2 separate regions of the Homo sapiens genome follow, and region 2 is linked to region 1. A link means that fine-mapping ties the variant in region 1 to the expression of a gene that starts in the linked region. Tissue or cell type: blood mononuclear cells. Region 1 holds a variant in brackets; the other region holds the start of a gene. All regions are shown on one strand. Distances are from middle to middle.

Region 1 (2,500 bases):
ATACTGGTACTGCTCTTTCATAACCTCACTTTTCACCCAGAAGTGGAGTTCTGCCCTCTGTGAAAATGAATATCAGCAGGCTTTCATACTCCTTAAAATCACCTTATAAATGCTTGACTGTGAATCCTAAAAGCCTCTCTTGTCTAAGGTCAATAACCTCTGCCCCCTGCATCTTACACATCCTAGAGTAACCTCATAGTTACACCATGGCCCTTTCCCTGTAAGTGCAAGATTTTGATGGTGATTGTGATAGTTAATTCTAATGAAGGGGTTTTTGTTCCGGAAGTGCTTGAACCTTTTAAGACTTTTGGCCTGTACCTATCCCCAAGAAGCTTATAGTAGTTTCAGATTTCATAATAAATTAAAATATAATTGATCCTCAGGTACCTCGAGGTGTGTGATACAGGAAGATTGCAGGCCCAGCAGGGTGCACCACTGGGAAGGTGCTGCTCCAAGCTCAGGCGGGCCCTGCATGGTCCTGTGTGCTGGCTTTGTTCAAAGGCCCAACTGGAGCAAACCTGCCTCAGAGATGATTTACTGTGGGCTTCCAGGGCTTCAAGGGAAGCCATGGGAAAGTCAACCATTTTTCTCAAGAATGCATCAGTTTGGGGCTTGATAACTGGCTATTTCATGTCTCAGTTGACTCCATTCTTTAACAAAGGACACTTGCCGAGTTAATGCACAATGCTGGAGAGAAACAGTTCGTTTTCAGGGGAGTCTCAGCTGCTTCTGGAGCACTGCAGACCAGTTGGTTGATGGAATAAACATATCTAGCTAGCTGGTCAGCCAGTAGCACAAATCAACATGAGAGAAACTATAGAGCCAACAATTGGACTTTCACTCCTGATTTCATTTTTCATGTCTTTATTCAGATGTGATTGGCATACAGTAAACACATATTCAAAGTGTATGTGATAGGTTTGTCATATGATACACCCATGACACCAGCACCCCAGTCAAGACAGTAAACATATTCATCACTCCCCAGGTTTCCCTGAGCCTTTCGGTCCCCCTACCCACCACCCTCTGCCCATCGAAGGTTCCCTATGGGTGCCTTTGCACTTTCTGGATTTTATGTGTATAGGTTCATCAAGTATCTGCGTTTTGTCTGCCTTTCAGTTAGCATAACGTTGAGTAGTGTTCCATCGTACGGATCTATCACAATGTGTTTATCCATTCACCTGTTGATGAGCATTTGGGTGGTTTCCAGTTTTGGGCTATTACAAATAAGGCTGCAATCAGAGTTTATGTAAAAAGAAATTCAGAGATGAATACCTCTGCCCAAGACTGAAAACTCAATGACAAATGGATTTCAAGTGGGATCCACATGAGAGACCCCCAGAATGACCGCATGAGGAGCTCTCTCAACCCACTCCCCAGCAAAACTTTTGAAAATGGTTAAAACACAGTCATTTAGAGTCTCTGCTGTATGGTCCTAAGAAGAAACATATATTCAAGAAAAGCTACTGTAATTTGACAAGAACAGCAAATGTCCCTGGTATATGAGCTAAAACCTGCTGTCTCCCCACTGCTTCCAGCTCAGCAATGCAGATGCACACCA[G/A]AAGCTGCAGCCAAGTGCATGGGCTCTGCTCCCCACAGCTCCTAGTCGAAGGGCCTTCTTCCTGGAAGGGGCAGGGCCTTACTTTTCTCATCTTGTCTGCAGTTGCCTGTTGCTGAGACTAAATCCCAGGTGAGTGTGGCCCCACGCTGGAGATGCTCTTGTTCTGCCCATTTCCTGTTTGTGGAGTGGATGCTTAGCCTGCAGCCTTGGGAATGGTGATCCTAAGACTACAGGAGCCAAGATCCCCTTGGTCTGGTTCATAGGCATTGGTTCCATGCTGGGAGAGTCACGCCGAGAAGACCTGTGTGTCCCTCCAACACACACACACAGTGGAGCACAGAGCCTGGGGTGTCACTCAGAGAGAAGATCGCCATTGTTCCCACTCCGAGCTCCAGGGCTCTGAGATTTTGCCCAGAGGAAGAAGCAGACCCTCGTAACAGCTCCCATTCTCTTCCCAAAGGGATGGTTTAATTTGCAACAGAATTTAGAAAAGTGCAAGCCTCACTGGACATGAAAATAAAAGACATCGAAATTGGGAAGGAAGAAGCAAACTATTTCTATTCACAGATGATATGATCTTGCATATAGAAAATCTTAAGGAATGCACTAAAAAGCTGTAGAACTAATCCACAAGTTCAACAAGGTTGCAGAATACAAGATCAATACACAAAAATCAATTGTGTTTTTATATACTTGCAATGAGCAATCTGAAGAGGAAACTAAGAAAACAATTCCATACTCAAAAGTATCAAAAGAATAGGTACTTAGGAATAAACAAAGGAAGTACAAAATTTATACTCCAAAAACTACAAACCGTCATCCACAAAAATTGAAGATCTAAATAAATGGAAAAATATCCCACGTGTATGGATTCAGAAGTCTTGCTATATTAAGATGGCAATATACAAACTATTGCAGAATTTTGCTCCTTAGTTCAGC
Region 2 (2,749 bases), 110 kb after region 1:
TTAACAACCTAACTTTACAACTTAATGAACTATAAAAAGAAAAACTAAATCCAAAGCTGGCAAAAAGAAGGAAATAATAAAGATTAAAGCCAAGATAAATGAAATAGAAAATAGAAAACGATAGAGAAAATCAATGAAACCAAAAATTGGTTCTTTGAAAATGTCAAAGCATTATTCACAATATCTTGAATAGGGAAGCAAGCCAAGTGTCCATCAACAGGTGAGTGGATAAGCAAAATGTGGCATATCCATACAATGGGATAGTATTCAGTGTTAAAAAGGAAGGAAATTCCACAATGTGCTACAACATGGATGAACCTTGAGGATGTTCTGCTAAGTAAAATAAGTCAGTCACAAGACAAATACTGTATGATTCCACTCTTATGAGTAGTCAGACTCAGAGACACAGGAAGTAAGATGGTGACTGCCAGAAAGTAGAAGGTAGAGGGGAACCGAGAGTTAACATGTAATGCATAGTTTGTTTTTCAAGATGAAAGAGGTACAGAGATGGATGGTGGTGTTATGAATATACTTACCACCACTGAGCTGTACACGTAAAGATAGTTAAGACGGTAAATTCTATGGATTTTATTTTTATTTTTTTGAGACAGAGTCTCACTCTCTCCCCCAGGCTGGAGTGCAGTGGCGCGATCTCGCTGTAACCTCCGCCTCCCCGGTTCTATGGGATTCTCCTGCCTCAGCCTCCCTAGTAGCTGGGGTTACACGCGCCCGCCACCACGCCTGGCTAATATTGTATTTTTAGCAGAGACAAGGTTTCACCAGGTTGGACAGGCTGGTCTCGAACTCCTGACCTCAGATGATTCACCTGCCTAGGCCTCTCAAAGTGCTGGGATTACAAGCGTGAGCCACCGCGCCCGGCCATTCTATAGTTCATTTTCACCACAAAAACAAAAATGAAATTCACAACAAGCAAAACTTCAGAAGGGTACAAAGGTAGAGAGCAGTGTGAGCTAATTTTACAGTCTTTCAAAGCATACAGACTGATGGCATCAGCATTAGAGGTGCATGCATTTTAATTAGAATTGTGGTGGTAACATTCATAAAACTGAAAACAAAAAACGAAGAAGATAACTTCTGGGAATCGGGACTTTCAGTGGAGGCGGGGTGATGAGAAAAGGAATATTTACTGTCATCCAACAACTTTGTCTTGTACTTTTGTCATAGGTATTATGCCAGTAATATCCCTGAGAATGTATGGGGCAGGTCTAGCTCTTTTTTTCCTAATAAATTCATTCACACAACAATCAAAACAGCAAGAAAAGGAAGAGATATCCGCACGGCGGCGGCAGGCCGGGGCCGTTCCAAGGGCCTGGCCGGAGGCCACAGGCCAGACGCGGCGGAACCCTCCCGGAGCCGCGCCCGGGCGCGCGCGGGAAGCGGAGGCGGAGTGGGCACGTGCGGCACTTCCGGGGCGGGGCGGGCACGCAGCCCTTCCGAAGGCCCGCGCGAGCCGCTAGTTTTGCCCACGCACTTTTGGCACAGCCGCGCCACGCGATCGGCGATCTGATTGGCCCGCGCGGGAGGGCGCGCGGCGCCAAACTTGCTTCCCGTCAGCCCCCGCCCGTCCCGCGGGAGCGCGCACGCTCGCGCACCCGGATCCCGGCTCCTGCATCCAGTCGCCATTCGGGAGGCCGCTGCGCTGCAGGGCCTCGCGGAGCCGCCCGCGACCGCGAGCCGGGCCCTCCGCGCGGTCCATCGCCCACTGGACGCCGCCCGCGGCCGGACCGGTGAGGAGCGAGAGCGAGCGGGGGAGGGGCGTGGTTGGGGCCTGCATCCCCGAGCCCCGTGTCGGCCGCCGACCTGGCGGGGACGGTCCCGGGAAGCCGCGGGTCCGAGTGAAGGGGGCCTGCGCTGCCTCGCTTCCCACACGGCCCGAGGGAAGGGCCCGCCCCCACAGGCCGGGGCGGGAGTGCGTCTTTGTGCAGGGAGCGGGGAGGCCCGGTGTCAGTCGCTGCCGAGGCTGGAAACATTGCGTTTGAAACCATTGGGAAGTTGAGGGCGGCACAAGACGAAAGCCATTCTTTCTGTTTTAGTTCTAGACTGCCTCCTCTTCTGTCATTATTACTGTTTAAAAATCCGCTATACAGCCTCCAAAGTGGGAGAGGACATTTGTAAACCTGATAAAGAGTTAATGTCTAGAATACAAGAAGAGATGCAACTGACCAACAAAAAGCAACCCAGTTCAAGAATGGGCAAGGAATTTGAATAGATATTTCTCCAGAGAAGAGAGACAAATGGCCAATAAGCACGTGCAGTGATGCTCAACATCACTAACCATTAAGGAAATGCAGATGAAAACCACAATGAGATACCACCTCACACCTGTTAGGGTGGCTATTAAAAAAAAGGGAAATTATGAGTGTTGGGGATGTGGAGAAATTGAAGCTCGGGTGCATTGCTGGTGGGAAAGTAGGGTGGTGCAGCAGCTATGGAAATTGGTAGTCGTTCCTCAGTTCTAGGTTTATACCCCCAAAAATTGACAGCAGAGACTCAGATACTTGTTCACAAATGTTCATCGCAGCATTATTCAAAATCCAGATGTCTATCAACATGTGGATGAAAGGCAAGCTGTGGTATATACATATAATGAATGGACCATTGTTCATCTTTAGAAAGGAATGAAATTCTGATACATGCTGCAATATAAACGAACACATTATACAGTATAAACGAGCACATTGAACACATTATGTTGAGTGAAATAAGACACAAAAAAGACATACTGTAT

The links. PIP is the estimated chance that this variant, and not a neighbour inherited with it, causes the effect.
Region 2: it holds the start of CHAMP1, and the variant in region 1 is fine-mapped to the expression of CHAMP1 in blood mononuclear cells (TOPMed, PIP 0.98).

What each region holds. Positions count from the first base shown.
Region 1 is chr13:114,201,016-114,203,515 of GRCh38, forward strand. The region is part of intron 3 of CFAP97D2 (CFAP97 domain containing 2); the gene reads left to right. Among named protein-coding and RNA genes, the nearest start is that of CFAP97D2, 23 kb to the left of the region's middle. The variant G/A (reference allele first, on the strand shown) is at 1,562.
Region 2 is chr13:114,312,896-114,315,644 of GRCh38, forward strand. CHAMP1 (chromosome alignment maintaining phosphoprotein 1) reads left to right here and starts at 1,608. Exons shown (of 3, transcript NM_032436.4): 1 at 1,608-1,748. RefSeq lists silencers at 199-493, 1,266-1,945.